7 linked regions of the Homo sapiens genome follow. The protein of the gene in region 1 purifies or fractionates together with the protein of each later gene. This does not show direct contact. Each region holds a gene or a part of one and is shown in the gene's direction. Other genes may lie near its edges.

Region 1 (3,500 bases):
CAAAGTGCTGGGATTACAGGCACGAACTCATATCCAGCTGAATTTCCTTTAATGAAGGAATGTTAGTGGCAAATTCTCTAAGTTATTTGCCTAAAATTGTTTTTACAAGGTAGGAGGATTGCTTGCACCCAAGACCAGCCTGGGCAACAAAGTTGAGACCCTGTCTCTACCAAAAAAAAAAAGCTGGGCATGGTGGCACATTCATGTCGTCCCAGCTACTTGTGAGGCAGGAGTGGGAGAATTGCTATGATCATGCCAGGAGTTCCAGCCTGGGCAACAGAGTGAGACCCTGTCTCTAAATAAATAAATAAATAAATTTGCTTCACCTCATTCTGCAAGATAATTTTGCTGAGAATAGAATTCTAGAATATCAATTTTCTCCCCTCTCTGAACACATTAAAATACTATATTACTGTATTTGGGCATCATTGATGTCAAGAAATCAGCTATCAGTCTAATTACTTTTCCTATGAGATGATTTGTCTTTTCTTTCTGACTGCTTTTACAATTTTTTTTTTCTTGAGTGTTCTATTTTAGAAAAATAGGTCTAGGTGAGAATTTCTGTTTATTTAATCTGCATTGAATTGTTGGGCTTCCTGGATTGGCATATTCCAGTGTTTTGCAACCTACTGGAAAAATGTCAGCTATTATTTCTTCAAATACTGCTTTTTTCCAGTTGTATCTCTTATCTTCTCCATCCACCTTGCCACTTAACCTCTGTTTTATATTTTCTATGTCTTTGACTCAATGAACTGCACTCTGGATAATTTATTCAGATCTATTTTCCAGTTCATTAACTCTCATATCAGTTGTGTCTAATCAATTTAACTCACCCGTTGCATTTTTATTTTTATTTTTTATTTTATTTATTTTTTTAAGACAGTCTCACTCTGTCGCTCAGGCTGGAGCGCAGTGGGGTGATCTTGGCTCACTGCAACCTCCGCCTCCTGGGTTCAAGCGATTCTCCTGCCTCAGCCTCCCGAGTAGCTGGGATTACAGGCGTGTGCCACCAAGCCCAGCTAACTTGTGTATTTTTAGTAGAGACGGGGTTTCACCATGTTGGCCAGGCTGGTCACCCATTGCATTTTTAAAATCAATCTTTTATTTCTAAAAGTTATGTTTGTTTCCTCTTCAAATCTACTTGGTCATTTTTATGCTCTTATTTCTTTCTTTCTTTCTTTTTTTTTTTTTTTTTGAGACAGAGTCTCGCTCTGTGGCCCAGGCTGGAGTGCAGTGGCATGATCTCAGCTCACTGCAACCTCTGCCTCCCAGGTTCAAGTGATTCTTCTGCCTCAGCCTCCCGAGTAGCTGGGATTACAGGTGCCCACCACCACGCCTGGCTAATTTTTTGTATTTTTAGTAGAGACGGGGTTTCACCATGTTGGCCAGGATGGTCTCAATCACCTGACCTCGTGATCCACCAGCCTCAGCCTCCTAAAGTGCGGGGACTACAGGCATGAGCCACCACACCCGGCCTCTTTTTTTTTTTTTTAAAACATACTGTTGCTGGCCGGAAAACTCTTATTTCTTCCTCATAGTTTCAAGCTTCCCTTTAATTTCTTAAAACATGTGAACTGGCCGGGTGCGGTGACTCATGCCTGTAATCCCAGCACTTTGGGAGGCCAAGGTGGGCAGATCATGAGGTCAGGAGTTTGAGACCAGCCTGATCAACATGGTGAAACCCCATCTCTACTAAAAATACAAAAATTAGCAGGGCGTGGTGGCACATGCCTGTAATCCCAGCTACTTAGGAGGGTGAGGCAGGGGAATTGCTGGAACTCGGGAGGCAGAGATTGCAGTGAGCTGAGATTGCACCACGGCACTCCAGCCTGGGCAACAGAGCGAGACCCTCTCTCAAACAAAACAAAACAAAAAAAATGTGAACTGTATCTGCTGTATATTCTGTGTGTAACAATTCCAACACAGCTTTTCCAAGTCTACTTTTCCCTGCTATTGTTTTGCTGGCTCTTACTCAGTGTCTTATTTCTTTGTATGTTTATAACGTTTTGGCTATGAGTTCATATTCCTGGAAACTTTACCTATGGAAATTCTTTGAGGCCTGGATTAGAGTTGCTCCAGAGATGTGTGTTTTCCTCTGCCAGTCATCTGGGGGTGCCATCAACCAGGTTGCACTTCAAAATACATTACCTACTTTAGATGTTCTGACCATACAGGTAGCATTAATAATTCAGGCTTCAAACCCACATTAGAGGGCAGGCGCAGTGGTTCATGCCTGTAATCCCAGCAGTTTGGGAGGCTGAGGCGGGAGGATCACCTGAGATCAGGAGTTCGAGACCAGCTTGGCCAACACAGCGAAACTCTGTCTCTAGTAAAAATACAAAAAATTAGCTGGGCATGGTGGCACATGCCTGTAGTCCCAGATACTCAGGAGGCTGAGGCAGGAGAATCGCTTGAGCCCGGGAGGTGGAGGTTGCAGTGAGCTGATATCATGCCACAGCAACTCCAGCCTGGGCGACAGAGTGAGAGAGACTCCATCCCAGAAAAAACAAAAACAAAAAATCCACATTAGATCAGGCTTGTTATAGAGTCTCAGGGAGAGTTTTTTTTCTCCCTTCTACACAGCACCAAAATCAAGAAAGGCAAAATTCTTTGCTGCCCTTCTTCATGACAAATTTACTTTTTGTTCATGTTCAGAGTGTAGCTGTTTGGAATCCCAGCTTTACGTAGGGAATCTCCTGTTAGTCTCTTCATATCAGGTGGGCCCAGGTATCATCTCTGGTCTCCTTTACAGCACAAGCACACTGACAGGCAGCTCAAGTTCACCTGGGTTTGGTTTGGCAGATACTCCTAAGGCAAAAGCTAATGTCAAGCTCACTTTCCCCCAGATTACTGTTTTCACTGCACATTTGTACTGTTGAGGATTTCTTGCCAACCCAGTGCTTTTGAAAAGATACTTTCTATTTTTATCCAGCTTTGTGGTTACTTTCATTGGGACATTTACTATTACACTCCCAGAAGTGGAAGTCTGAATGTTTTTCTAGTCCATCCTTTTTCTGGGCTGTGACCCTTTGACGGTTTCATGTTGATACAGAGATCTCAGTTCCAATGGCCTACCTTGAACGGGCCCAGGACCTTGTCTTCTCTTCCAGGTGCAACGACTAAAACCCTAGGATTTATGTTGCCAGCTGATGTTGGTGAATACCTTTAGGGCAGCTGTGGCTTCAGCATCTATTTTTGGCTACTGGGGCTTATAGACACCAACAAATTATGTATACTCACTTTATCTGTTGGGCCAGTTGTATGCATAGAAAAATGAAGACGGGCCAAGTGCAGTGCCTCACGCCTGTAATCCCAGCACTTTGGGAGGCCCAGGCGGGCAGATCACCTGAGGTCAGGTGTTCAAGACCAGCCTGACCAACATGGTGAAACCCCGTCTCTACTAAAAATACAAAAATTAGCCAGGTGTGGCGGCAGTTGCCTGTAATCCCAGCTACTCGGGAGGCTGAGGCAGGAGAATCACTTGAACCAGGGAGGTGGAG
Region 2 (3,500 bases), on another chromosome or scaffold:
ACGGTTCCAGCCTGGAGCATGGAGCTGTGTGGGCACCCTGCTTCCTGACGCTGACCGTCCTTCTGCAGGGGGTCCACTGGACGGGGCCTGAGCTACAACTTCACCCACCTGGACGGGTACCTGGACCTTCTCAGGGAGAACCAGCTCCTCCCAGGTGAGCTGTGGGCTCTGCCCTCCCAGCCCGCCTGCACCCCCTTGCCCTGCCCACCCTCTCCCTCACCCAGCCCCTCTGAGTCCTTGGATGTCCATTCAGGGCTGGCCTTGGTGCCGGAGCACAGGCCTGGCAGAGCATGGGTGTGGTGTGTGGTGGGCGGTGGGGCAGCCCTCCTGTGTTCCAGGGTTTGAGCTGATGGGCAGCGCCTCGGGCCACTTCACTGACTTTGAGGACAAGCAGCAGGTGTTTGAGTGGAAGGACTTGGTCTCCAGCCTGGCCAGGAGATACATCGGTGGGCGAGCGCAGGCCCTGGGGCCCTGGCCGGGGCGGGGGTACTCCTGGGCAGGTTGCACCCCTATCACGCAGGCTGCTGCCTGGTCAGGAGATACATTGGTGGGCAGGCGCAGGCCCTTGTGGGGGGATGGGGGTGACAAGGGATAGGTTGGTGGTCGGCGCAGGCCCTGGGGCCCCAGGCTGGGGGGTACTCCTGGGCTTGGTGGGTGGGCGAAGGCCCTGGGCCCCTGGGGTGGGGGGTACTCCTGGGCAGGCTGCACCCCTATCACCCAGGCCGCACCCCTATCACCCAGGCCGCCGCCCAGGTCTTGGACCCCCTTGAGCCAGCGCTTCCTGATGTGGGGCGGGAGGCTGGCCTGCATGGAGATGGGGTTCATCTTGAGTCAGACGCCCTTCATCACCTTGCACCCTCCCTCCGTGGGAGTCACTGAGGCGAGATTCACCTGTGCTGGGGGGACAGCAAGGCTCCTCTGCAGGTAGGTACGGACTGGCGCATGTTTCCAAGTGGAACTTCGAGACGTGGAATGAGCCAGACCACCACGACTTTGACAACGTCTCCATGACCATGCAAGGTGTGCACCGCTTCCTGGGGTCCTGCCCGGCTGAAAGGGGGCAGAGGAAGGCAGGAGCAGAGGCTAAGCCGCTCATCCCCAGGGCAGGTGTAGACGCAGTGCTCCCCCGGCCCAGGCTTCCTGAACTACTACGATGCCTGCTCGGAGGGTCTGCGCGCCGCCAGCCCCGCCCTGCGGCTGGGAGGCCCCGGCGACTCCTTCCACACCCCACCGCGATCCCCGCTGAGCTGGGGCCTCCTGCGCCACTGCCACGACGGTACCAACTTCTTCACTGGGGAGGCGGGCGTGCGGCTGGACTACATCTCCCTCCACAGGAAGGTGCGCCCTGCCCCTCCGTCCGCCCCGGTGTTCTGCGCCCTCAGCCGCTGTGCCCCGGGCCGCGCTGACCCTGGTGGTGCTGAGGCGGCCCCGCCCGCAGGGTGCGCGCAGCTCCATCTCCATCCTGGAGCAGGAGAAGGTCGTCGCGCAGCAGATCCGGCAGCTCTTCCCCAAGTTCGCGGACACCCCCATTTACAACGACGAGGCGGACCCGCTGGTGGGCTGGTCCCTGCCACAGCCGTGGAGGGCGGACGTGACCTACGCGGCCATGGTGGTGAAGGTGGGCCGGCCCAACGCCCTGCGCGCCCCCCGGCCACCTTCCTCCCGAGACGGGACAGGCGAGCGGTGGCCGCGCCACCCGGTCCCAGCTGCCCTGGACACCCGCAGGTCATCGCGCAGCATCAGAACCTGCTACTGGCCAACACCACCTCCGCCTTCCCCTACGCGCTCCTGAGCAACGACAATGCCTTCCTGAGCTACCACCCGCACCCCTTCGCGCAGCGCACGCTCACCGCGCGCTTCCAGGTCAACAACACCCGCCCGCCGCACGTGCAGCTGTTGCGCAAGCCGGTGCTCACGGCCATGGGGCTGCTGGCGCTGCTGGGTGAGCCGGGGCCGCTGGGGTGGGCCGGCCAGGGCCCTCCAGGCTGGGGAGCGGCTCCTGCGAAGGCCCCGCTGCGGGGAGCGCACTTCCTCCAGCCGCGCGCTTCCCGGGGTCGGCCTCCGCGTGGCGGGGCCTGGGGACTCCTTCACCAAGGGGAGGGGGAGCGAGTGGTGGGAGGCCCGGCCCTGGGTCGGGGGGCGGCTGGGCAACGACCCCACGCGGCGACGGCCCCCCCCCGCCCCGCAGATGAGGAGCAGCTCTGGGCCGAAGTGTCGCAGGCCGGGACCGTCCTGGACAGCAACCACACGGTGGGCGTCCTGGCCAGCGCCCACCGCCCCCAGGGCCCGGCCGACGCCTGGCGCGCCGCGGTGCTGATCTACGCGAGCGACGACACCCGCGCCCACCCCAACCGCAGCGTCGCGGTGACCCTGCGGCTGCGCGGGGTGCCCCCCGGCCCGGGTAAGCCGGGGTTCCAGGGAGGTCTCTGGCCCCGCTGGGGCTCTGGAGGGGGCGGCCCGGGGAGCCGAGGCCTGAGTGTCAGGCCCCGCAGGCCTGGTCTACGTCACGCGCTACCTGGACAACGGGCTCTGCAGCCCCGACGGCGAGTGGCGGCGCCTGGGCCGGCCCGTCTTCCCCACGGCAGAGCAGTTCCGGCGCATGCGCGCGGCTGAGGTAGGTGGGCCGCGGAGGGGCGAGGGGCCGGGCCGGGCCGGGGTCCCGGGGGGGTGGGGTCCGGGGCGGGGGCTCCGAGGCGGTGTGGGTGGGAGGTGGAGCGGTGGGCCGGGGGCGTTCGCCCTGAGGTCGGGCCGAGCGTCCCCAGCTCCCCTGGAGAACCCTGAGGACCGGCCACTGCGCCCAGGACCCGGTGGCCGCGGCGCCCCGCCCCTTACCCGCCGGCGGCCGCCTGACCCTGCGCCCCGCGCTGCGGCTGCCGTCGCTTTTGCTGGTGCACGTGTGTGCGCGCCCCGAGAAGCCGCCCGGGCAGGCAAGTGGCAGTCCCCTAACCCGCGCCGCGGCCCGGACTCCCCTTCCCCGACGCCATCACAGCCCTTCCCTCCCCCAGGTCACGCGGCTCCGCGCCCTGCCCCTGACCCAAGGGCAGCTGGTTCTGGTCTGGTCGGATGAACACGTGGGCTCCAAGTGCGTGAGTGGGGCCGCCCCTCCCTCTGCCTGGTCCTAGGCAGGTCCCTGGGTCCCGACCCCTTCACCCATGCGGTCACTCGGGCCACTTGCCGTGGCCCATCGGCTCCCTCCCTCGCCGCCCTGCGTCCCTGCCCTTCACCCCACACACTGTGGGCCACGCGCCAGGCCCTGCCAGTGGGGTGTGGGTTCTCCTAGGGGACATGAGATGGACATTCGGGCTCCAGCCCTCTCCTGCCTGGGCAGGAAGAGTGCCCAGGGGCTGGGGAGGTGCCGCCGAGGGGCTTGAGGGAATGAGGCTGTGGGTCCACGCGGCCGTGCCCTGCCTGCTCCCACCTTTGAGGACTGTCTTGACCCCAGCCTTGTTCTTGGCCTGACCTCCCCAGGTGCCTGTGGACATACGAGATCCAGTTCTCTC
Region 3 (3,174 bases), about 190 Mb from region 1:
TGCTTAGTAGTGCCTGTCATCTGAAATACATGTTGAATTAATTAAATTGGCTCAACTTCAGGTGCCGATAAGAAGGGACGCTTCCTTCCGATTACTACCAGCTATGACTATGATGCACCTATATCTGAAGCAGGGGACCCCACACCTAAGCTTTTTGCTCTTCGAGATGTCATCAGCAAGGTACCCTACCATTTCATTAAGCTCCAAAGGCTTTTATTAATTTGGAGGAAGGGAGTGCCCACATTGTAAAGGTATCCCATAAATTGGTGGTTATTGTCTGGGCCACAGAGCCTTCTGAGCATCCCACTGAGGCATTTCCCATTCAACCAAATGGGACTATGTGTGAAGACACACAGGTGTGCAAAATTATTGAGCCTCCATGATCCCTGAAGCCCTTCCCTGGGCCCCAGGTTAGGAACTCTGCCCTAGAGTCTTGGAATAGGTATTGTTTTCTGTGGTTTTCCTATGGATCCTGAGAGAATCTGGGCTCAGTTCCAGGAAGTTCCTTTGGGACCTTTACCTCCCCCGAGCCCCAAGATGATGCTTGGACCTGTGACTCTGCACCTGGTAAGTTCCTCCACATCTTTTCTCTTATACCACACCTTTTTTTTCTAAATAGCCTATTCTTTCTTGTCCTCTATCCAGAAACTTCCCTGATATTCTAATTCTTCTCCCTTATTCTAATAGGTTGGGCATTTACTGGCTTTCCTAGACTTGCTTTGCCCCCGTGGGCCCATTCATTCAATCTTGCCAATGACCTTTGAGGCTGTCAAGCAGGTAAGGCATAAACCCACATCTGGTGGAGATGACAACCTCCCTTAACAGCTATACGCAAAAGTTCCTTGGCTATAGTCACAGTGTCCTCTTTTATTTCTGTTTGTCTGAAGTACTCATTCTTCCATACCCAGGACCATGGCTTCATGTTGTACCGAACCTATATGACCCATACCATTTTTGAGCCAACACCATTCTGGGTGCCAAATAATGGAGTCCATGACCGTGCCTATGTGATGGTGGATGGGGTGAGAACCTAATTCCAGGCTGTGAGCCCCAAACTCCTCCCTTCCCCAGGAAGCGTTAGCCTTAAGTTCCCCATATTTACACTTTCCCACCTGCCTGTTCACGTTTGCAGAGGGTTCCAGGGATAAGCTGGGATGAGGAAGAGTTTGATTAAGGATAGAATTCTAGAATAGATGGGTGATAGATGGCTACATTCTCTCTGCCCTCCAAATAAGTATCCTAATGTGTGGTTTCCTATGCAGTGGCTAAGAGCTAGATGCTGAGCCTTGCTCCTATCCTATCTCCTATCCACAGGTGTTCCAGGGTGTTGTGGAGCGAAATATGAGAGACAAACTATTTTTGACGGGGAAACTGGGGTCCAAACTGGATATCTTGGTGGAGAACATGGGGAGGCTCAGCTTTGGGTCTAACAGCAGTGACTTCAAGGTGAGCTAGCTTTGCCTAGTTATATCCCAGGGCTTGATTAAGGATAACTTAGCTTCAAAGCTTAGTGAATGATGACTTTTCATTTTCCTTCCCTATAGGGCCTGTTGAAGCCACCAATTCTGGGGCAAACAATCCTTACCCAGTGGATGATGTTCCCTCTGAAAATTGATAACCTTGTGAAGTGGTGGTTTCCCCTCCAGTTGCCAAAATGGCCATATCCTCAAGCTCCTTCTGGCCCCACATTCTACTCCAAAACATTTCCAATTTTAGGCTCAGTTGGGGACACATTTCTATATCTACCTGGATGGACCAAGGTATTGGTAATGGTGGTGGTTTGGGTAGCGGGGAGGTAAAAGAGAAAAATCACAGAAGGAGGGGAGCAGAAAGTATCCTCTGATTAGAAACCCAAAAGGGTATGATTCTACCCCTGGAGAGCTGACCCTTTCTTTTCCCCTCTTTCCTGCTCCCTATTCCCCAGGGCCAAGTCTGGATCAATGGGTTTAACTTGGGCCGGTACTGGACAAAGCAGGGGCCACAACAGACCCTCTACGTGCCAAGATTCCTGCTGTTTCCTAGGGGAGCCCTCAACAAAATTACATTGCTGGAACTAGAAGATGTACCTCTCCAGCCCCAAGTCCAATTTTTGGATAAGCCTATCCTCAATAGCACTAGTACTTTGCACAGGACACATATCAATTCCCTTTCAGCTGATACACTGAGTGCCTCTGAACCAATGGAGTTAAGTGGGCACTGAAAGGTAGGCCGGGCATGGTGGCTCATGCCTGTAATCCCAGCACTTTGGGAGGCTGAGACGGGTGGATTACCTGAGGTCAGGACTTCAAGACCAGCCTGGCCAACATGGTGAAACCCCGTCTCCACTAAAAATACAAAAATTAGCCGGGCGTGATGGTGGGCACCTCTAATCCCAGCTACTTGGGAGGCTGAGGGCAGGAGAATTGCTTGAATCCAGGAGGCAGAGGTTGCAGTGAGTGGAGGTTGTACCACTGCACTCCAGCCTGGCTGACAGTGAGACACTCCATCTCAAAAAAAAAAAAAAAAAAAAAAGTAACCCTTGGACCTGGGACATGGAGTGGGCAGGATCCCTTGGTGCTGGCCACGGTGACCCTAAGGAACTAAAGGCCACAGTGCCTCTGAATGTAAGTACAAGTACACATTCCTTGCCAAACTTTATTGTGATTAAAATTCCAGAGACAGTACCAGCTCCACATACCTCTAGCCCTGTCTTTGCCCTAGTTCCCGAGTGTCCTTCACCCCCATCTTCCAAATCATCTCTGGTTTCACGGGGAAGAAAAAACCTAGGGCTGCTGTGAATGTGCCCTCTCAGGTCCCTGAGTTGGCCCCAGGTAGAGCTGTAAGAGATCAGGAAGAGGGCCTCCCTGCCTGACGGCGATGATCCTGGAGGCAACGTGTGGAGCAGAAAGAGAAGTCGAGGTAGTGAAAGGGAGTCAGGCCTTGGAGGGATGCCCCACAACTCCAGCAGCGTCTGAACAAGAGGAAGAAAAATGGCTGGACAGGTACCCCAGAAACTTTCCAATCCACGCTCTCCCCGTCCCTCCTCCTGCCATTTCTGTTTTCACTGCAGCATCTGCCAGAACATCCCAAATTCCCTCAACCACCCTTCTGAATACTGTGCAGGTACTCATTTCTCTTGCCCCCAATGGTCCCTGCAACATTACAGTCCACCCACTCCCTCATCCCGCACCCCAT
Region 4 (2,760 bases), on another chromosome or scaffold:
TGTGGGAGCAGAAGGGGAGTTCTGGCTGGCTCCACTGGGGGCTTCCTCACCCAGACGGGCTAGGGGGAGAAGGTCCAGGAGTGGATGGCAGCCCTCGGTCCCTGGGCCTTGCAGTCCTTCCCAGCCTGGTGTTGGTCCCGCTGCACACCACTCCTAAGGCCGTAGAGAAGGAGCTGAACGCCCTCTACGATGTGTTTCTGGAGGTCTCCCAGCACTGGCAGAGCAAGGTAGGCCTGGGCAGTTTGTACAGGAGGGACAAGGATAGGGTGGCCCAGCGGCCAGCCTGATGGCTGCTGTGTCTCTAGGACGTGATCCTGCTTGGGGACTTCAATGCTGACTGCGCTTCACTGACCAAAAAGCGCCTGGACAAGCTGGAGCTGCGGACTGAGCCAGGCTTCCACTGGGTGATTGCCGATGGGGAGGACACCACAGTGCGGGCCAGCACCCACTGCACCTATGACCGCGTCGTGCTGCACGGGGAGCGCTGCCGGAGTCTGCTGCACACTGCGGCTGCCTTTGACTTCCCCACGAGCTTCCAGCTCACCGAGGAGGAGGTGAAGGGATGGGGCTGGCATGAGGAGGGAGGGCAGCAGCAGGGTCACAGGGAAGCCCCTCGGCCCCGGGCACTGACACTGCCCCACCACCCATTCCCAGGCCCTCAACATCAGTGACCACTACCCCGTGGAGGTGGAGCTGAAGCTGAGCCAGGCGCACAGCGTCCAGCCTCTCAGCCTCACTGTTCTGTTGCTGCTATCACTCCTGTCCCCTCAGCTGTGCCCTGCTGCCTGAGCGTCCCCCTACCCCCCCAGGGCCTGCTGCCTTTTGGGACTTAAACCCCAGCCTCCCCCGTCCATCCAGCCCTGGGGCTGGGGGGCTTCAACTATAGTTGCCCTGTGACTGTAGTCCACCCCTGCCTGCCTTGTTTGATTTGGCTCTTGTTCTTTGGTTGGGCTTGTGCCTAGATTAGGAGAGGAAGCCAGGGGCCCTGCACTCATGCCACCTGCCAGGTAGTGTAGTATCAGGAGTGGAGACAAAGTGGGCTCTGGGTTGGGGTAGGGGAAGGGAGGGTTCAGAAAGAGGAATGAAGATGTTGTATGACAAGAAGGAAAGTTACTGAGAACAAAAACCCAGATTGGTGAGATAGGACACTTGTGCAGCAGATATGCCAATGGGCCATGTTTATTGTGGATTGGTAAGAATCACCAGGAAACCATTAAGCCCCAATAGCTACAAGGAGGGTGGTTAATCTGCTATATCAAACTCCTTCCCTGAAACCAGCAAACACCGGGAAACATTTTGGCTCATTATAATCCGGTGAACAATGCAGTCAGGCCTGTTATAACCGCTGAGCAGCCACACTCGCACCTCCTGGGTGCTGTAGTCTGTGTTGGTACAGGCTTCTGCATGCCTGGTAAAGTCCAGCCAAGGCTGGTCAAGGCAACATCTCCACACAGAAAATCTGCACCAGTTATGTAAGCTAAAAAGCTGTGTGAACCCAGGTGTCCCGGAAAGGGGCTGCAGGACACAGCAAAATGCCAGCAGCATGCCGGACCCCTCCCTTCCATCCTCCTCTCCAAAGAAGAGAGGTCAGGAAAAACACTGGCTGGGACGCTAGAAGGGTCATGTGTTAACTATAATCACATTTATGGTTTGGAACCATCACCCCAAGGTAAAAAAAAAATAAAAGGTATTCCCAGGTATGTTTGGCAAAATAAAATAAAGGTAATTAAAAACCTAAGAAATGGCTGTAAACTGAGATTACAAAAAACCAGAGGCCTTTTGGGAGCCACAGGCTGGGGGCTGGGGCCAACATACCCCAGCTCTGGGACCAAAAGCCTTTGGAGTCCTGTCCCTGGATACAGATGCTCAGGCCACCCACCTAGCACTCCTCTCATTTTTGCTGCTCCCCCAAAAGCCAGCGCTGTTCTACAATAGTTCAGGTCAGACATCTAAGATCCCCAGGCCAAACCATGCCACACACGTGTCTGTTCCGAGGTCTTGTTACAAATGACCAAAGGTTAGCCTAGACCTTTGGTCAGGTGGTGAAGGCCCTGGGAATGCAGGTTCTAGAAGGGGTGGGGGCATGGGGCCCAGGAGGTTGCTAGAGATAGGAAATGGGGCAAATCGCAGGTGACCTCAGCAGTACCTGGATGATTCCCACCAAGGAGGAATGGCCAAACCAGATGGGTGAGAACAAGCCCAATGTGATGCACACCTACCCTTGCTAAATAAACGCTGCTGGTCAGCCTCTAGCCCACAAGCCCCTCTTGGTCCGCATGTGTTGTAATAAGCAACACAACTGTAGGCTGACCCCAGCCTGGGATTGCAAGGCTTTGCTGCAGCTGTGCTTCATGAAAAGCACTTCAGTGTTTTTCAACCTACTGCCTAGGACCTGGGGAGGTCCAAGTCAAGCTCCAGAGTAGACAACTGACATAAGGCCACCAGTCCCAGCCCTTTGCAGGGTTTGCTGCCTCATGAGCAGGGCTGAGTTGTCAACCTGTTTCTGAAGTGAAAGGGCAATGACCCAAAGGTTCCCAGAGGAAGTTCCTTCCCCGTCAAGAATGTAGATACAAAGACATAGGTGGACAGGAAGTAGAATTTATTGGTGAGTATTAAGAGGGGGGCAGCACATTGGAAGCCCTCATGAGTGCAGGGCCCGCCACTTGTCCAGAGGGCCACGACTGGGGATGTACTTGACCCCACAGCCATCTGGGATGAGCCGCTTTTCAGCCACCATGTCTTCAAATTCATCAGCATTGA
Region 5 (3,500 bases), on another chromosome or scaffold:
CTGTAATCCCAGCACTTTGGGAGGCCAGGGTGAGTGGATCACTTGAGGTCAGGAGTTTGAGACCAGCCCGGCCAACATGGTGAAACCCCGTCTCTACTAAAAATGCAAAAAATTAGCCAGGTGTGGTGTTGCACACCTGTAGTCCCAGCTATTCAGGAGGCTGAGGCAGGCGAATTGCTTGAACCTGGGAGGCAGAGGTTCCAGTGAGCCAAGGTCATGCCACTGCACTCCAGCCTAGGCAACAGAACAAGACTGTCTCAAAGCAAAAAAACAGAAAAAGATTACAAGGTGGGGGCTATTTGAGCCAGTGTGGTCAGGGAAGGTGTCTCTAAGGAAGTAGTGTTTCAGGTGACATCTGAAGGAGGTGAGAGAGGGAGCCTTGTGGGTGTCTGGGGGAAGAGCATTGAAGGTGGGAGGAACAGAAGGTGCAAAGGCCCTGGGGTAAGAACAAGCTTGGTGAGTTTCAGAAGCAGTGTGGACGCTGGTGTGGCTGGAGAGGTCGCGGGGAGATGAGGCCGGGGAAGCCAGACCACTTAGGAACTTGTAAGCTGTGGGCAGAAGTTTGGATTTGACCCAGAGAGCAGGAGAACAGGAAAGCAGGGCCTGTCAGAGGCATTGTCCATTCATCCAGGATCTATCCAAGATGTTCTGGGTTCTGGCCTGGGAGTGACTACCAGAGAGCTTGACAGTTCTGAGCCCCACTATTTTCCTTGTGGAAAAGATGCCTTCCTGATCCCTGCGAAGGCCTCCCTAAGATCTAGCTACATCGTTGGCACTATCTGGGTTTGGGACCAACTCTTTCCTGGGGCTTTCAGAGGATGGGGAGAAGGAATAATTCAGTTTAGATCACGTGCCTCAGGGACTTCACACTTGCTGTTCCCTCTGCCTGTGACACTGTTCCCCCTGGTAGCTATTTATCTCTGATTTCTGCTTAAATGTCACCTCCTCCAAGAGGCTCACCCTGAACAGCTAAGTGAAATAGCCCCCTGCTGCCACTCTCTGAGTGCTTACTCCGTGTTCTTTTTCTTTCTCTCTCTTTCTTTCTTTTTTTTTTTTTTTTTGAGACTGAGTCTCACTCTGTTGCCTGGGCTGGAGTGCAGTGGCGCAATCTCGGCTCACTGCAAGCTTTGCCTCACCGGTTCAAGTGATTCTCGTGCCTCAGCCTCCCGAGTAGCTGGGACTACAGGCACGTGCCACCTGATGCCCAGCTAGTTTTTGTTGTATTTTTAGTAGAGACAGGGTTTCACCATGTTGGCCAGGCTGGTCTTGAACTCCTGACCTCAGGTGATCTGCCGCCCAAAGTGCTGGGATTATAGGCATGAGCCACCACGCCCGGCCATATTTTTCTTTATAGCCCTCGTTTCCACATTTCTATGATTCTTCTATTCATTCATTCTCTGTTTCCCCACTAGAGCGGCAGTTTATCAGGGTTCAGCTAGCTTTGTTGTTTCTCCAGTGTCTAGAGCAGAGCCTGACACACAGTAGGTGCTCAAGAAATATCTGCTGAATGGATGAATGGATGGATGGATGGACCCCCTCACACACACAGAGTGTCTTTCTTTCTCAAACCACAGGATTCTTTTATCAAGAGAGTGTCAGGGGAACACTCGCTCCTGGATGGAAGGCACCAAGAAAATCCATTCTTCAGGCCAGGTGTGATGGCTGATACCTATGATCCCAGCATTTTGGGAGACCAAAGCCAGAGGGTCTCTTGAGGCCAGGAATTTGAGACCAGCCTGGGCAATACAGCAAGATCCCATCTCTACAATAACTTTTTCTTTTTATTTCTTTTTTTTTTTTTATTTTTGAGATGGAGTCTTGTTCTGTCACCCATGCTGGAGTACAGTACAGTATTGTGATGATCTCAGCTCACTGCAACCTCTGCCTCCCGGGCTCAAGAGATTCTAGTGCCTCAGCCTCCCGAGTAGCTGGGACTACAGGGGCGTGCCACCACACCCAGCTAATTTTTGTATTTTTAGTAGAGATGGGGTTTCACCATTTTGGCCAGGCTGGTCTCGAACTCCTGACATCTTGATTTGTCTGCCTCGGCCTCCTAAACTGCTGGGATTACAGGCGTGAGCCACCGTGCCCGGCCTCTGCAGTAACTTTAAAAAAAATTGGCCAGGCTTGTAGTTCTACTCAGGAGGCTGAGGTGTGAAGATCACTTGAGCCCAGGAGTTTGAGGCTGCAGTGAGCTATCATTGCACTACTGCACTCCAGCTTGGGCGACAGACTGAGACCCTGTCTCCACAAAAAAGAAAGAAAGAAAACCCATCTTCTTTACCTGTGCCTGACATTCCACCGATAGGGCACTGTTGTTTAGGGGTAAGACGATGTTCTCCTGGGGCTCCTTTAGAGCATGTAAATGTCCCAGTGGAGGGAAGTAAAAGGAAATTTAAAGACTCCGAGTTAGTGTAGGAAAGAGCCCCTTGGGGCTGGATTTAAGATTATGGAGCTTGAGCGACATCTAGTGGTCGAGTGAGGTTTGTGCAGGGACTGTGTGCGTCTGTGTGACTGGTGGGTGAATGTGTGTGGTTGTGCACCTGTGCGTGGGCGCGTGCGTATGTGGGATGGGGGTGCCCAGGTCAGGGTAAAACAGGTGAGATACTCGCCGCGGGTGCAAACATTTTAAAAAGTTGATGATGATGATGATGATGATATTTGAAACAGAGTCTTGCTGTGTCGTCCACACTGGAGTGCAGTGGTGCGATTTCGGCTCACTGCAATCTCTGCCTCCCGGGTTCAAGCGATTCTCCTGCTCAGCCTCTCGAGTAGCTGGGATTATAGGCGCACAGCACCACAGCCGGCTAAATTTTTTTTTTTTTGTATTTTTAATAGAGACAGGGTTTCACCACGTTGCCCACTCTGGTCTCGAACTCCAGACCTCAGATGATCTGCCCGCCTTGGCCTCCCAAAGTGCTGGGATTACAGGCGTGAGCCACGGTGCCGGGCCTATTTCTAAGACGGGGTCTTGTTCTGTCACCCATGCTGGAGTGCAGTGGTGCAGTCATAGCTCACTGAAGCCTCCAACTCCTGGGCTCAAGTGATTCTTCTGCCTCAGCCTCCTGAGTAGCTAGGGTGACAGGTACATGGTACAGAGTTCAGCTATAGTACAAAATTTAAGGGTATGCCCCCCAAAAAAATAAAAACCAGTAACCAAGATAAATAATATTTTAATGGAACATTTTAAGAAAAATCTAAATTGATGCAAGAAAAATCTATAATGAATAAAAACAAATTTTTAAATAAATATGGGCTCCCCCTCTGCACTTGCATAACTTGCCTCACTCTAACTTTGGCCCCATAGGCATGTGTCTGTGGTGTCATGCGTGTATGTGTATGTTTGGTGACTGTGTGCATGTTCAGGGACCATGAGCACAGGGACATGCTTGTATCATCATCACACCAGTGACTGTATCCATGTAGGCCAACCATATGGTATGTGTGGATTTCTTTCTTTCTTTCTTTTTTTTTTTGAGATGGAGTTTCGCTCTTGTTGC
Region 6 (3,500 bases), on another chromosome or scaffold:
TATTGCCACCCTACATCAGCAGGGCCTCTTTCCACATACCAGTTTGCAACCACTTCTAAATAATTAGCTTTGTGATCTTACATTGGGGGGTTGAAGACACTCATGGAGTGTGGGGTTAAAAGAGCCTTTATTCCTCAAAGTCATACTGAGGCCCCAGTCTGATGCACATTCCATTCCTAGATGGTGTGATGGTGGGCCTGTGTCTGGCTTCAGAGTTTCCAGCTCACTAGAGTTGCGGGGGCGCAAGGGTGGAGTGTCCATTCCCTGCAAAGAATCCTACAGTTCCTCCAACCCCTTGGCGCAGGCAGATTTCTGGAAGTCGTGAGCAGGTCCTTTAATCCTTGTTGGAAGATGTTGATGAAAATCAAGGTTGAGGGTTGTAAACTGGGGCTTAAACATAAAGGTGATCCAGTATCTGAGCCCAGATGTGGGCCTGGTAGGAAAGCTCTGTTGTTTGGGCCAAGTAGGGAAGGGTCTTGAGGAACGAGTGGGTTTGTTCTCATCACAGGGTCTAGTCTTACTGGGTCCTGGGCAGAGTATTAGTACATGCCCCTATTTCAAAGGAAGGTGGACCAACATCAGCATCCTACATGTGCCACAGATGTTCATTCATTCAACAGATACTTCTTTTTTTTCCCAAATGGATATTTCCTTGAGAATCTTTTATGAGCCAGGCCTCATGCTAAGGCATTGGGGATAACCATAAATAAGACAGACACCATCTCTTTCTCTCATGGCCTAGTGGGACAGCCACTGATTAATTATTTAATTCAGGTAGTAAGTGCTGGAAAGAGAAAGTGTTAATATAATGTGGTAAGAGAATGTATAACAGGGATCCCTAACCTAATTCAAGGAGTCAGGAAAGCCTTCTCTGAGAACCTCTGGGTCTTTCTTAGAATAATGTTTTTAAATGTATAAAGTAAAATGCATAGAATTACAAAGAAAGCAGTTTTATTGAAATACAGTTATCAAAATATAACAACAAGGTTGTGATAAAATAATATTTATGTTTATTAATGCATCATATAAAAAGATCAAAGGTACAAGCTTGATAACTTCTATAATTTTAAGTTGTGATGAGCATAAATAGTGTTTCAGGATATCTTGTAATGTGATAAGAAAATATGATTTCTGTTGGTGGCAAAGTCACAGACACTGCTACCCTAATTACTACTGTAATTTGTTATCTACATTCATAAATGTAGAAAGCATTTATACATTTATAAATACATTCATAATACAGGAAAGGCTAAATTTCAGTTAGAGGTTAGTGAAGATAAAGATGTCATTTTTCTCCATCCAAATTCGTAGACTACAGTGGAAAAAAATTATATAACACTTGGAAATAAAAGATGATTTTGTGACATTTTAGTATCATACTGGAGTATTGTATAAGAAACCACCTAAGGACCAGCTGTGTTCTAGGGGATGTAACTCTGTTTATTATTTTTTATGGGCCATACTTTGTAAAGTTAAGTAGGATGCAAATTATTTCTGTTTGGTAAAGAAGAGAAGCACAAAGATTATTGCCCTGAAGGACATTAACCTGTTGGTATCTAATGTAGCAATCTTATATCAGGATTATATCCTCTTTTTTAGGGTCTCTTATTAGCGAGTTAAGTAAAACTTTGAAATATGCTCAATACCTATTTGTATGAGAATTAGGCTTTTAACATTTTAGAACTGTACTTGACTCCAGTTCAACTGCTGAGTGAGCAGGACGTAAAGATGTGTTGCTTAGAAGAGAGGTCTGATCTGGAGATGTTAATTTAGGGGTGCTGTTCAGGAGAGTGGGTGAAGTTGGCTGGGGGACCATATAGGGTAGGAAGAGAGGGTAGACTGAGTGAGCTGTGGAACTTCAACATTGAAAGAATGGGGAGAGGAGGGTTTACAAAGAAGAAAGGAATGATTGCTAGAGAGGTAGGAGGGAAACCAAGTGTCGCATCCAGTTCAAGAGGCCAAACAAGATGAGAACTGGAAGTGCCTGTAGGGTTTATCTATAGGAGGTCATTGTTGAGCCTTCACCAAGAGCCTTTTTTGTGGTGGTTGTGGGGAGGGCAGATTTCAGAGGGATGAGCAATGGAAGGAGGGAGGAGAATGGGAGGAGCAGGGGAGATGGAAAATTCTGGCTGTGAGTGGAGAGGGGAGTGATATGGGGTCCAGAGAGAGAGTTTTTAAAAGATGGGTCAGTGATGGAGTTTCTTCACCTTAAGGAGATATGTGTAAAATGGATTCCTGGGCTCCCAGCCCCTGGAGATGTTTTTCTTCAAGAATAAAGCCCAGGAATCTGTATTCCCAGAATACCGAGCTCTGCGGTAAAGCTACAAAACTAGACACATTTCCAAGTTAATCTTATATGGCTGGTGGTATTTTGCCAGCCGAGGTGGGTGCTCTCAATTGAGTGTGTAGCACAAGTTCTGCTCACATTGGAGCTGTGTCACCATTGTCTGCTTGGTGTCACTTGGCCTGAGCATGTGCTTTTCTCTGAAGGGATTTGGGGGTTTGTGGACATGCTGGTAGCAGAGGGAAGATGGATCAGGTTGTCATTGTAGCTCTTTTCAGCAGGTCACGCTCAATAGCTGGATTGGAAGGGACAGCAGACTTGCCAGCCTCTCGGGTATTATTCTGGGTGGAGCAACGGGGAGTGGATGATGCTCCAGGGATGTCTGTGGGAACTATTCACATTGACAGCCCAAGAGAAAAGCATCAGATCTGTCCTGGCGGGGACCTGGCTCTACTGTTTTAGGCTTAATCCGAGGCAAATCCCTTCTCTGAGCCTCAGTTTTCACATCTCTAAAGTGGGGATAGTACCACCTCTGCCTATAAACACTCATTGTTTATGACAATTTTTCAACTCCTGCAAGAACAGTTATACATTTTACAGTGTAACCCAGTACACACTGGGCTCACTGAATGCATAGTGTTGCTACCTGTGCTACTCACTGATGTTTTCTAGTCAATGTAATTTTTTAAAAATGCTACTGTAACTCACTGATTTTATGACTAGACTCCTGGGTTGAGACCTGAAGGGTGGAAACAGTGGCTTAGACTCTCAGCTTCAGAGGATGAAATGAGATCATGTGTGTAAAAGCATGGATGTACACCGTGGGTCATGAACACTGAGTTGTTATTTTCTTATCAGTTAACGGAGCTTGGAGGCAGAGTTGATTTCCGGAGTGGGAATTCACCTGCTCTTCCTCCCTCCCTGCTGCCTAATTCAATGTTCCCTCTACCAGTTCTTCCTCGTTAACAGGCCTGGCACACCAAGCTGGCGGTGATCCAGACCCCTCTTGGCTCAAGAAGAGGTTTTCCAAAACATTAAAAGCTTTAGGGACTTAAGTCCTGGCTAAATGCACTGCAGTTGCAATTTCAGGATAAGAAAACCTGTTTTCATAAGCTCTCAGATAAGTTGCCCTGCCCCTGAATTGTCCATTGTTGACAGCAACATTTGTGCCATGGGGAATAAAAAGGGGAGACACTGTGCTGCGTAGCCCCAAATG
Region 7 (3,500 bases), on another chromosome or scaffold:
TGCACAGTCCGTGCACAGTGTAGCAGGCAGGTCCAGGGCTGGCTGACAGAAAGGCTATGTTGTCAGCTGACCTATGTTTCCATTTCTCCCCTAAAACTTTATGCCGGAAATATGTTTGGTATCCTTGACATTGGTTAATTTGAACTCTAGAGCGTGTGAGATCTAGTGTGGGTGTGAAGTTAACGCTGACTCACATATGCATACATTTTTTCTTTTCTTTTTTTTAGAGAAAGCCAGTGAAGAAGAAGGATATTTTTGTTGCAGTAAAAACATGCAAGAAATTTCATGGTGACAGAAGTATGTTTTGGGTTATTCATTTTATTGAACGCTAAAATCCAGACTACCTTCTAAAGAAAAGTACCAATGAATTCTTGAGTGTAAATTCAGAAAAGGGATAATGACAATTCGGATGTTGAAGTGAAAGCAGTTATTTAATCAATACTCCTCATTGCACCATTTCAATCACCAAGATCAATTAGGAAAGAAAATTTTGTATTGAAACGTGAGTGGTCATAGCCGATACTGCTTATGGCAGTATTTTAAATTGGAAATGGAAAAGCTCAGTGTGGCAGTCTTGGAGACTGTGTGAAAAACAGTCCATTTTGTCAAACAATGTATTAGGTCTGTGCGCAGTCTCTAAACGGGATGAAGAATGTCAGGGGATTTCAAGGTAACAGCATGCCAACAAAGAAAAAAGACTTTTTCTTCTTTTTCAATTTATTTCAAATGCTTACCTTGGAACTTGTTAGTTAAGAGATGTATTTGCTCATGAGTAGATAATATTGGAGAAGAAGAAAAAGCCGCGGTACAAACAGTGAATCTCTTCTTAAGGAAATCCTGGCATGCAGATTAATGTTGTTTTTATTCAGGTTTTTGATGTCATTACAGAATTCTGCTAAGTTGTGACGATAATGTAAAAAAAAAAAGCCCATCCTAAATATAAATAGACATAATTTCTCTCTTTTTGCACCTTATTTCAAGCAACACTTTTCTGAAATTGAAAATTAGGCAGTCTTTTGCATTTTCTAATTTTAGTGCGTATTTTAATTTTTTTCCCCATGAAAAGACTGTCAATTTCACCAAGGATGTGGTATTTATGTAGGAGAGATTTCTAAACCAACTGTCATTTTCATGGGATTGGAACTACTGAAGAAGTTCATTTATATATTTTATGTGATAATATGATACATACAAATTATATTTTACAGGGGAAGATGTTTTCCAAATAAAATAATATTATAATTTGAGATTATAGTATTGTCTAAGACATCAACATCAATTAAAATCCAGCTATAATCAATTATATCTTAAAAATACATTAACTATAAACCTTCATATTTGCCTAAAATGGCCACACTAAATTCCAAATCCTATTAAATCAGTCTATATGAATACATTTGTTATGCAACAAGTCCTAAGATACTGTGAAGAATCAGTATAGCAGTTAAAATAAAATTTTTATTTATCATAAATTTAACCTAAATTTAATATCCTTTTACTTTTTTCATAATATGGAAGGGTTTTGTGGGATTATTTTGACAAATACCTTCTTTAAATAGGTGTTGGGGAAATGAACTATACCGCTTTTTGTTTTGTTTCTTTTACAGCAAGCAGGAACTGTTTGAATTGATTTAATTGATCTTGAAGCTACACTTGGAGTAGTGATTGTTTTCACAATATTAATGTTAAGGATGGTGTTGCTGGTACTTTTTCTTTGAAACACATTTTTCAGGTCACAGTGAAGCAGTAAAATTAGGGACACTCCCTGTTGTATTTTTTATATTCTACAGAAATGAAAAAAAAAATAGTTTGTTAATTTTGATTTAGTAATTTTGAATAATCTAGTTTACTGCTTTCTTATTTTGCATAAGTTTGAGATACTCTTTTTAGATATTCATGAAATCCTTTTCTGTTTGAATTTTGAGTCAAAAGTCTTTAAAAATTACAAAATCTTAAAAGCCTATTAGGAGCATTAGAAACAAACCTTCCAAAGCCAGATGCATTGATTTACTGCTGTTAATTTGAATCTGGGATCATTAAAGCATGAGGCCTAAAATGTATCATGAAGTTTTCATATTTGGGTTTCTGTGGTAAGCCGTTTTTCAACTTGGATATGTTTGTTTGAAAAGATAGTCTAAGGCAACAGGATTTCAGTGACTTTGAAGTCCATTTTGCATGACTTCATGTAGCCTGCCAAGCCACCACTGGGCTCTGCCCCTCATTTTAGAAGCCTAGTCCAGCCATCAGTTGGCCCAAAGAGTTATCCAGTAATACCAGTTACAAGGATAACATCACACTAACTGCTTCTAACTGCTAATATTTCTTACATTTTCTGGTGTGTTTTTCACATATGTTCTATTACCTAGTTTCATGTTGACACTTCCTCGTGATATGATAATTATTGTTATTCACTTGTTGTGGAAAAAGCTGAGTATGGAATGATACACAACTGGCTCAGTTTCTTGTATCCTATTGAGTAGCAGAGCCAAAGACTTGGGTTTTCTGGCTCCTAAGTCCCACATTTTTTTCTACCACAGCACAGCTATACTGTAATCTCCTTGGATGTATTACAAACTCCATACTTGATAAATAGTCTTTGCTATTCATGTTGATGTCCTGCTATGCTCAAGGTCAGTTTTGACTTGGCCAGAAGCTGTGAAAGTAGGCTTTCCATTTTTAGTAGCAATGGGGATGGCAAGGAATTGAAACCCACACAGGATCTAAAATACAAATCGAGCTGAGAATTTAGACTGCCACTCCTATCTAAGCATATCACTGCTATAGTCAAGCAGAATACATGGTCTGGGGTGTTGGATTTTTTTTTCATTTTCTTTTCCCTGTGCACTCTATTAGTGGGGGAAACCAGCCCCCAATATTCAACGTGAGTCCTTTTCTATTTTCCCTAAGTGTTGGCCAGTCTGAGAAATAAAGGGAAGGAGTACAAAAGAGAGAAATTTTAAAGCTGGGTGTCCGGGGGAGACATCACATGTTGGCAGGTTCTGTGATGCCCCCTGAGCCGTAAAACCAGCAAGTTTTTATTAGTGATTTTCAAAAGGGGAGGGAGTGTACGAATAGGGTGTGGGTCACAGAGATCACTTGCTTCACAAGGTAATAAAATAGCACAAGGCAAATGGAGGCAGGGCGAGATCACAGGACCAGGGCGAAATTAAAATTGCTAATGAAGTTTCAGGCACACATTGTCATTGATAATATCTTATCAGGGGACAGGGTTTGAGAGCAGACAACCAGTCTGACCAAAATTTATTACGCAGGAATTTCCTCATACTAATAAACCTGGGAGCGCTACGGGAGACTGGGGCTTATTTCATCCCTTATCAACGACCATAAAAGACAGACATTTCCAAAGCGGCCATTTCAGAGACCGTCCCTTGGGAACGCATTCTCTTTCTCAGGGATGTTCCTTGCTAAGAAAAAGAATTCAGCAATATTTCTCCTATTTGCTTTTGAGAGAAGTGAAATATGGCTCTGTTCTGCCCAGC

The links.
Region 2: the proteins of CGREF1 (region 1) and IDUA purify together in Homo sapiens (affinity purification with mass spectrometry; one large-scale study listed by BioGRID and IntAct). This does not show direct contact.
Region 3: the proteins of CGREF1 (region 1) and GLB1L purify together in Homo sapiens (affinity purification with mass spectrometry; one large-scale study listed by BioGRID and IntAct). This does not show direct contact.
Region 4: the proteins of CGREF1 (region 1) and DNASE1L1 purify together in Homo sapiens (co-immunoprecipitation; one large-scale study listed by IntAct). This does not show direct contact.
Region 5: the proteins of CGREF1 (region 1) and OLFM2 purify together in Homo sapiens (affinity purification with mass spectrometry; one large-scale study listed by BioGRID and IntAct). This does not show direct contact.
Region 6: the proteins of CGREF1 (region 1) and PDIA5 purify together in Homo sapiens (affinity purification with mass spectrometry; one large-scale study listed by BioGRID and IntAct). This does not show direct contact.
Region 7: the proteins of CGREF1 (region 1) and B3GLCT purify together in Homo sapiens (co-immunoprecipitation; one large-scale study listed by IntAct). This does not show direct contact.

What each region holds. Positions count from the first base shown.
Region 1 is NC_000002.12:27,105,629-27,109,128, reverse strand, and holds part of CGREF1 (cell growth regulator with EF hand domain protein 1 isoform a precursor), read left to right. Parts: intron 1-3,500. UniProt on the Homo sapiens protein: Mediates cell-cell adhesion in a calcium-dependent manner. Able to inhibit growth in several cell lines.
Region 2 is NC_000004.12:1,000,544-1,004,043, forward strand, and holds part of IDUA (alpha-L-iduronidase isoform a precursor), read left to right. Parts: intron 1-68; coding exon 69-154; intron 155-338; coding exon 339-446; intron 447-924; coding exon 925-1,020; intron 1,021-1,135; coding exon 1,136-1,338; intron 1,339-1,438; coding exon 1,439-1,618; intron 1,619-1,725; coding exon 1,726-1,942; intron 1,943-2,188; coding exon 2,189-2,401; intron 2,402-2,492; coding exon 2,493-2,614; coding exon of another isoform or gene 2,615-2,801; coding exon 2,802-2,927; intron 2,928-3,005; coding exon 3,006-3,082; exon of another isoform or gene 3,083-3,086; intron 3,087-3,468; coding exon 3,469-3,500.
Region 3 is NC_000002.12:219,236,098-219,239,271, reverse strand, and holds the end of GLB1L (beta-galactosidase-1-like protein isoform 1 precursor), read left to right. Parts: intron 1-61; coding exon 62-180; intron 181-492; coding exon 493-567; intron 568-687; coding exon 688-777; intron 778-908; coding exon 909-1,022; intron 1,023-1,314; coding exon 1,315-1,446; intron 1,447-1,544; coding exon 1,545-1,760; intron 1,761-1,924; coding exon 1,925-2,200; 3' UTR 2,201-2,674; downstream 2,675-3,174. Other genes in the region: tRNA endonuclease ANKZF1, read right to left, coding at 2,827-2,950.
Region 4 is NC_000023.11:154,400,736-154,403,495, reverse strand, and holds the end of DNASE1L1 (deoxyribonuclease-1-like 1 precursor), read left to right. Parts: intron 1-114; coding exon 115-227; intron 228-305; coding exon 306-554; intron 555-654; coding exon 655-789; 3' UTR 790-2,260; downstream 2,261-2,760. Other genes in the region: RPL10 (large ribosomal subunit protein uL16), read right to left, coding at 2,473-2,760.
Region 5 is NC_000019.10:9,930,016-9,933,515, reverse strand, and holds part of OLFM2 (noelin-2 isoform 2 precursor), read left to right. Parts: intron 1-3,500. UniProt on the Homo sapiens protein: Involved in transforming growth factor beta (TGF-beta)-induced smooth muscle differentiation.
Region 6 is NC_000003.12:123,073,525-123,077,024, forward strand, and holds part of PDIA5 (protein disulfide-isomerase A5 precursor), read left to right. Parts: intron 1-3,500.
Region 7 is NC_000013.11:31,276,475-31,279,974, forward strand, and holds part of B3GLCT (beta-1,3-glucosyltransferase precursor), read left to right. Parts: intron 1-227; coding exon 228-297; intron 298-3,500. UniProt on the Homo sapiens protein: O-glucosyltransferase that transfers glucose toward fucose with a beta-1,3 linkage. Specifically glucosylates O-linked fucosylglycan on TSP type-1 domains of proteins, thereby contributing to elongation of O-fucosylglycan.